Linked DNA regions of Homo sapiens: region 1 is linked to region 2. The links come from fine-mapping of genetic effects on gene expression. A gene starts in region 2. The other region holds a variant in brackets. All regions are shown on one strand. Distances are between the middles of the regions. Region 1 has its middle 6.3 kb from the start of MTIF2. Region 2 holds the start of CCDC88A (coiled-coil domain containing 88A).

The links.
Region 1: its variant is fine-mapped to the expression of CCDC88A in whole blood (INTERVAL, PIP 0.99).

The regions. Positions count from the first base shown.
Region 1 is chr2:55,273,378-55,277,777 of GRCh38, reverse strand. No RefSeq gene overlaps it. Among named protein-coding and RNA genes, the nearest start is that of MTIF2, 6.3 kb to the right of the region's middle. The variant G/ATG (reference allele first, on the strand shown) is at 2,224.
Region 2 is chr2:55,417,804-55,422,203 of GRCh38, reverse strand. CCDC88A (coiled-coil domain containing 88A) reads left to right here and starts at 2,348. Exons shown (of 33, transcript NM_001365480.1): 1 at 2,348-3,187; 2 at 3,288-3,388. The coding sequence starts at 3,125. RefSeq lists silencers at 1,948-2,237, 2,298-2,347, 2,378-2,447.

The DNA.
Region 1 (4,400 bases), 140 kb after region 2:
TAACTGGTTATATGGAATGTAATTTCTTTCTAATTAAACCGTAAAATGGATGAACACATTGCTTGCTTGCCTGGGAAAACACTGGTTTCATGCAATGTGAACAAAATCTACATAGTAGACGACAACTGGGTTAAGCAGAGAAGGAGCATGTTTTTTTCTTTTTTGTTCACTTTAAAACACCCATTTAAAATTGTGTGGTTATAAGGAAGCTTTACTTTGGACAAGCACTGTTTACAGAAGACACAGCCGAGCCCAGGCTGTGTTGTAAACTCCCAATGTGTAACTCCTGAGAGCCACAATTACTGCAATTCAGGAAGCGTGCAGAAGAAGGTCAGGTGAACAAGACCTGCCCTGAGTTGTTCTTTAAATCAGACTTAATTTTCTGGGTCTACCTAGACCACTAAATTAATGAATACAGCCACATATTCAGGGGTTTTTGCTTGTTTGTTTTTCCTTTTTTGTTTTTTTTTTTTGAGACGGAGTCTTGTCACCCAGGCCGGAGTGCCGTGGCACAATCTCAGCTCACTGCAACCTCCACCTCCCTGGTTCAAGCAATTCTCCTGCCTCAGCCTCCCAAGTAGCTGGAATTACAGGTGCCCGCCACCACGCCTGGCTAATTTTTGTATTTAGTAGAGATGGGGTTTCACCATGTTAGTCAGACTGGTCTCAAACTCCTGACCTCAGGTGATCCACCCGCCTTGGCCTCCCAAAGTGCTGGGATTACAGGCGTGAGCCACCACACCTGGCCATATATTCAATATTATTACATGGTCTGCAGGTGGTTCTCATAGCAACCCAAGAAAACTGACTTCCATACAAAAGTGCTGTAACAGAGGTACTTTTCCTACTTTGCATGTATGGACTACGGATATTTTAAGTCATGCATTTCAGTGATTGCTTCAACTGGATTAGGTTTGTGGGAACTACTTTGGAATTTCTGTCCTAGTCTTACTGGCCAAGAGAAGTTTCCTATGATTTTAATGCCTTAATTAACTTGCAAGTAATATATATTTGCATAAATTTTAATAAAAATATTAAGTTGAGATCAGAAATCACATATTATTCCTCTATCCCTGCTGGATGGATTTACTTATTGATGGTAAATACTGATTTGAGTAAATGTCAATAAATATATTTTGGAATGTGTTGGCTTTAAGAACAAAAAGGGCCAGTTCAATTAAAAACAAACTCATATTCAGTATTTTTCCCAAACATAAAATAGTGTCTTTTCTAACAAGTTGCATGCATTTTTTTTTTTTTTTTTGAGATGCAGTCTCTCTCTGTCACTCAGGCTATAGTGCAGTGATGCAATCTCGGCTCGCTGCAACCTCTGCTGCCCAGGTTCAAGCAATTCTCCTGCCTCAGCCTCCTGAGTAGCTGGGATTACAGGCACCTGCCATTGCGCCTGGCTAATTTTTGTATTTTTAGTAGAGATGGGGTTTCACCGTGTTAGCCAGGATGGTCTTGATCTCCTGACCTCGTGATCCGCCCGCCTCGGCCTCCCAAAGTGCTGAGATTACAGGCGTGAGCCACCAAGCCCAGCCCCCTATTTCTTTAAATAAATGTTTTAATACTACGCTTTAAAAATAAAGACAAGTTAACAACATATATATAGATTGTTAAAAAAAATTAGACCACATATGAAGATACAAAAATTTAAATCACAGGTATATAAAAATATTCACATTGGACACATAATGTATATACTCTAATGCTGTTTATTTCTAAAAGATTGTTTTGTTTTGTTTGTTTTGGGACAAGGTCTTGCTCTGTGTTGCCCAGGGTGGAGTGCAGTGGCATGATCACAGCTTACTGCAGCCTTGACCTCCTGGGCTCAAGCAATTCTCCCACCTCAGCCTTCCAAGTATATGAGACTCCAGGCACACACCACTGCACTCAGCTAATTTTGTATATTTTTAGTTTTTGTAGAGATGGGGGTCTCCCTATGTTGCTCAGGCTGGTAATGCTATTTATTTCTAATTTTTCTGATCAAGACAGAATTATATATTTTATAATCTGCTTTTCTGTTTTCATCTAAGTATCCATGTCAACAGATCTACTTTATTACTTATAATGGCTGTATAATATTCCATTTACGTATCCAACTCCAAATTTGGAAATATCCAATGTCCAATGACCTAATGTTAGTTATTTCCAAATTTTCAATATAATTACAAATAAGGCTATAAGTGTATTTCTCTCTCTAGGTGAATATATATATAT[G/ATG]TGTGTATATATATACATATATGTACATATATATACATATATATACATATATACATATATATACACATATATATGTATATATATATATACATATATATGTATATATATATACATATATATACATATATACATACACACACACACATATATACACATATATGCATAATTGTTTCATGTATTCCTTAGAATAAATACCAATAATCTGCAAAGTTACACAGTTCACACCTTTTTTTGGTTGTTTTGTGAGACAGGGTCTCCCTCTGTCATTCAGGCTGGATTGCAGTGGCGTGATCTTGGCTCACTGCAACCTCAGCCTCCCAGGCAATCCTCTCACCTCAGCCTCCCAAGTAGCTAGGACTACAGGTACATGCCACCACACCCAGCTAATTTTTGTATTTTTAGTAGAGACAGGGTTTCACCATTTTGGCCAGGCTAGTCTTGAACTCCTGGCCTCAAGTGATCCTTCCACCTTGGCCTCCCAAAGTATCTGGGATTACAGGCATGAGCCACTGCAGCTGGCCAATTTCCATTATATATTGTTGAAAAGGCAAAAGGCAGCATGTATTGTATAAATCCCATTTATATAAAATTGTATGCATATGTATATTTATTATTATTATTATTATTATTTGAGACAAAGTCTTGCCCTACTGCCCAGGCTGGAGGGCAGTGGCACAACCTCTGCTCGCTGCAACCTCTGCCTCCCAGGTTCAAGCAATTCTCCTGCCTCAGCCTTCTGAGTAGCTGGGATTATAGGCAGCCGCCATCACGCCTGGCTAATTTTTGTATTTTTAGTAGAGACGGGGGTTTCACCATTTTGGCCAGGCTGGTCTTGAACTCCTGACCTCAGGTGATCCACCTGCCTTAGTCTTCCAAAGTGCTGGGATTACAGGCTTGAGCCACCAATATACATTGTATCTGTATGTATATTTATGCGTGTTTTAGGATATCTTTCTTTCTTTCTTTCCTTCCTTCCTTCCTTCCTTCCTTCCTTCCTTCCTTCCTTCCTTCCCTCCCTCTCTCCATCTCTCCCTCCCTCCTTCCTTCCTTCCTTCCCTCCCTCTCTCCATCTTTTTTTCCTTCCTTCCTCCCTCCCTGCATTCCTTCCTTCCTTTTAGAGTCAGGGTCTCACTCTGTCACTCAGGCTGGAGTGCAGTGGCATGATCATAGCTCATTGTAAGCCCGAAATCCTGAGTTCAAGTGATCCTCCCACCTTGGCCTCCAGAGTAGCATAGGACTGCAGGTGTACACCACCATGCCCAGTTAATTTTTTTATTTTTTGTAGAGAAGGGTCTTGCCATGTTGTCCAGGTCTCAAACTCCTGGCCTCAAGTGATCCTTTGGCCTCAGCCTTCCAAAGTGCTGGTATTACAGGTGTGAGCTACTGTGCCTGGCCCTTTCTTTCTTTTTTAAGTCAACTTTTTTTGTTTGTTTGTTTGAGACGGAGTTTCACTCTTGTTGCCCAGGCTGGAGTGCAGTGGCACGATCTCAGCTCACCGAAACATCCACCTCCCAGGTTCAAGCAATTCTCCTGCCTCAGCCTCCCGAGTAGCTGGGATTACAGGCGTGCACCACAATGCCCGGCTAATTCTGTATTTTTAGTAGAGATGGGGTTTCTCCATGTTGGTTAGGTTGGTCTTGAACTCCTGACCTCAGGTGATCCACCCACCTCGGCCTTCCAAAGTGTTGGGATTACAGGCGTGAGCCACCGCACCCAGCAATCAACCTTTTAATTTTGGAATAATTTTAGATTACAGAAAAGTTGCTGAGATAGTGGAGCGTTCCCAAGTGCCCTTTACCCAATTTTGTTAACATCTTACATTAATCATGATACACTTGTGAAAATTAAAAAATTAACATTGGGGTATTACTGTTAACTAAACTACAGACATTATTCAGATTTCACCAGTTTTCCCACTAATGTGCTTTTCTGTTAAAGGATTCTATCCAGGATACCATATTGCACTGAGTTGTTATGTCTCCTTAGTCTCTTCTGATCTGTAACAGTTTCTGAGTCCTTTCTTGCTTTTCCTAACCTTGACAGTTTTGAAGAGTACTGGTCAGGTATTTCGTAGAAGGCTCTTTAATTGGGTTTCTCTGATGTTTTCCCCATGATTAAAGTAGGGTTGTGGGTTTTTGAAAAGGATATTACAGGGGTAAAGTGTCCTCATCACATCA
Region 2 (4,400 bases):
CCCTTCAGTCACCACTTCAAAATGCCCCTAACCTGCTGTATTTGGTGTTAATACTTTTTGGTTTTTCGCCTATGAATGAAGCAGATTGATTTGTCCTAGGATAAACCCAGTATAGGCATAATTACTTCCATATTGTTTTGTCAAGCGTCTGGGGGATTACAAAGAAAAGTGGGTATGTCAAGCACTGGGCTGCTCCTGAAAGCAATGCTGTCTCCTTGGTGCCCACTCTCCTTCTGTCTGTATTTCATTTGCCAAATAAAGAACTGCTATTAAGAAAGAGTTATCAGGCCAAGCGCGGTGGCTCTCACCTGTAATTCCAGCCCTTAGGGAGGCCGAGGCGGTGGATCACTTGAGGTCAGGAGTTCGAGACCAGCCTGGCCAACGTGGTGAAACCCCGTCCCTACTAAAAATAGAAAAATTAGCCAGTGGGTGGTGGCGGGTGCCTGTAATCCCAGTTACTTGGGAGGCTGAGGCAGGATAATCGCTTGGACCCTGGAGGTAGAGGTTGCAGTGAGCTGAGATCGTGCCACTGCACTCCAGCCTGGGTAATAGAGACTCTGTCTCAGAAAACAAAACAAACAAAAAAAGAAGGAGTCACCAAGCCAGGCGTGGTGGCTCACACGTCTCGTCTCAACTGCTAGGGAGGCTGAGGTGAGAGGGTCACTTGAGGCCAGGAGTTTGAGGCCAGGCTGGGCAACACAGTGAGACTCCCATCTCTAAAAGGCTTTTTAAAAAGTCATCAAGAGCAGATGGAAAAGATTGCTAGCAACAAGGATGTCTGAAGGCTTGTGTACTGGCTAGGGAAATGCAAGGTTCTACTTGTACATCACCTAGCAAAGTGCCACATGAATGCATCCTAATTTTAATTAAGATGATTTTCAAAGGGCATTTAGTTCCCTCCTCAAAGCAAGATCCTTTCTCCTGTAACTGAAGCAGAGAGGTTATATTTCAAGTTTTTCATAAAGGTTCTTTATTTTGAAGGAATAATGTTAAAAACAACATTAATGACATTTATAGAACACTTAACTATAAGCTGCCATTTCATTTAACCCTATTATTAGCCCTGCTTTACACGTGACGGAATCGAAGCACAAAGAGACTCAATAACGTGCGTAGGCTCACACAGCTGGTGCATATTGGAACCAGGCAGGAAGACTTCAGAGTCCAGGTTCTCAACTACCCAATTAAGAAATTCTGCTCTTTCTTAACTGTGTTATGACAAAAACATTTTTACTGCTAATTTAAAATATATACTCCGTGTAAATATTTATGTAATGTAAACATAGCACACATTATAAAACTATAATATTATCTTTTATCAAAAAAAGATTGCGTTCTATATGCCCATTTTACCCCGGGAAAAAGGTCTTTATTTTCCTTTGAAATGAGGAGTAGCATTTGATTTTGCCAGGGAACTTAAAATTATTTCAAGGTCCCAGTCGTACGTGGCATGGAGATTTATGACAAATATGTAATCTGTTTATTTGTCACCCAACTTGGATGACTTCTAAATGTTTCTTCTTTGTAGCTCTTGATTTTGCTTGGGTTTCCCCCGACCCATGCCCAAATAGTAAAAAACAAAACAAAACCAAAAAACAATGTCTGAGTCATGTTTGCTCCAGTCAGGGAATACCAACGTGCTGACAGACAGCTCTGGTTTTTAAAAAATCTTACTGTATGTCACTTGCAACTTTGAAGAACATTCATGCGTTAGTGGACTGCATTTGGAAGAAAACAAAAAGGAGAAAAAAACCCCCACCAAGTTGTGGCTCAAGTCCCTCTGCCATTTGCTGCAGTGAGTTTTCCTATTCCATTTTGCTGGGGAGAAGGCATGCTTTACAGAACACATCAAACTGTCCGAAAAAGGCTGTCTGCATCCCTCATGTTTATAAGAGAAGGATTTCTTTCCCCTTCCTTCACGTATCAAAGAAGTCACTCGGGGAGGAAATAAACCATAATTAGGCATGAGCGAGCGAGCAGACAGACCCCTTGCTCTGCCTTCCCTGTCCCCGCCCACCAGGCAACCGTCCTGGGCGCAACCGAGGAGCGGGTTGTCTCCGCAGCAGCTGCAGCGAGCGCGCGCCCACGCCCGAGCCCGCGCCCGCCGCCAGGATCTGGGCGGCGGCGAGGCTAGCCCGGGGGCGCGCTCGCTCGGGAGCGCGCTCATGCAGCGGTTTTCTTCTCCCACAATCCAGAGGCAGCTGCACGGGAGGGGCGGGGAGTCGGCGGAAGGATATCGGCGCGGAGGGAGCAGCGCGCTCCCTTTGACGGCGGCCCCCGGCATTGGCGGGCGGCGCTGGCGGGCGGCGAGGGGTGGGGTGTGATGCGGCACTGCGGTTCTGAGGCCGTTACTCCGGCTTCTCCATAGAGGGCGGAGAAGGCTGGAGCGCGGCGGTGATTTTGTGCCAGGGATTCCCAGAGACGCGCTGAAAGGCTGGCAGGGCTTAGGAAGCTGGGGGGTTAGGGACACACATTCAAGCCCCCACCCCCGGGAGGGGAAGGGGGCTGGAGGCGAGGCTTGAGGGCGGCGGAGGAATGGTGTCTGCTCGGGGGGAAGGGGCGAGCCCTGCCTGTTGGTACTGAGGGGCTGCGGGCAGTGGAGGCTCCGCGGGTCGAAAGCGGCTCCATGCCCATCGGTGGGTGGAACGTGTAGAGGTCGGAACGCCGAGGTCGAGTCTGGTGGCGCCTCGGTATCCTTAACGTGGTCTCTGTTTAACGTATTTCATTTAGCCCCCGTTGGGATTGATTCATTGGGAGCAGTTTCGCTGGTCTGGATCCTCCAGGAGCTGGACAACCTTGACGGGCTTTTTGTCTTGGGTTCCAGCCCCCTTTCCCTTCCTCCTCCTCCAGATGCCTTTTCTCTGCCCCTCCTCGCCCGGTACAGACATTTCCAGCGCAGGCTGCTGCTCGTGGTGTCCGTCGTCGAAGCCACTTCTTGGGATTTCGGCTCGTTTCACTCTGGGGTGTTTTTTGAGGAGGGAGAGTGCCCCCCTCCTCCACGATGGGATTTTTCTCCCTTGCCGAAATGGACTTTCATTGATTTCTACTTACTTCCACGTTTAGTGACCAATTCCCTAGGCGTATTTTTGTGGTAGTTCCTTTTTTCAAATACATACTCTGTAAAATGGAGAACGAAATTTTTACTCCCCTTCTGGAGCAGTTCATGACCAGCCCTTTGGTCACTTGGGTAAGTGGGGTGTCCTTTATTGTATATTTTGCTGAGTTATTTGTGGCTGCAGAGATGGAGGTGGGCGTTCATGTCGTGGTGATCCTTCTGTTTGTTCTAGGTTAAAACGTTTGGACCTCTGGCCGCAGGAAATGGGACCAACCTTGATGAATATGTGGCTTTGGTGGATGGGGTATTCTTGAACCAGGTCATGCTCCAAATGTAAGTTCTTCCTTCTTTCCTAGGTAACGTTTTCTTTGAGAAATAGCATATGGTGAACTTTGAGACACGATGTTTTAAGCCCCTAATTTGGTTCATTGGCCAGAAATATTCAGGTGGTTTAAGAATTGGATCTTGAAAGGAATGCTAATGTTATGGGCTCAGCCCATTATCACAACCTAGATATTTTACCTGTTAAAATTGTGAAACTTTAGTTTTTCATTCTGTCAACCATGTATTGTCACTTGTCTTCAGTACTGAAATCCAAGCCACATTGTGTATTCTTTGATAATTTGGTAAAATAAGAGAGAAAATGAGAATCTGGTTTCCTAAGAGAGGAAAAAAGACTTTACTGTGAAGTTATGTGCATTTGATGCAGAAATGTTTCTTATTAACCTTTATATCTAGAAATAAATGGCTCAAAATTTGAAACTCGTTAAGTAATAGCAGATTTCAGAAGAGAAAATTTCAAACAGTTCTGATTGGTGAGGACTCTTGCTGTAGTAAATAATTTAAATGCCTGTAATAACTAAAGCCTGATGAGATGATTTATTGTGTGAATTATTAGGTTGCTTAATATTTTAGGGATCATTTTAAGGTATTCTTACAGGTTTTGAAATGCAAATAACAAGTCTTGATAACAATTAGATAACGACTTATTGGGCAAATCTTTGTCTTTTGTGTTTATAATATTGGGTTTGTACTAAGTAGGAAAGTATGCTTTTGAGATGGGAATTGAATAGTGAAAGTATATTGGTAGCTGGATCAGTAAAATTAAAACTCAGCTTTTATCTAATTACAGCTATTGTAGCATACGTGTATTCTAAGTACGCTAATGTAGTTTATCAAACTGAATTTTTCAGTTGTGCTCAAAGTAATGTATACTTAGTCTTATTTCTCTTTAATAGAATCTGATGAGAAGAGGTAGTTTGGAACTTTTATATGTATGGGAAATTGGTGTGTTATCAATAAATAGTTGTTACTAGAGAATAAGTCTACCATTCTGCTCTGATAA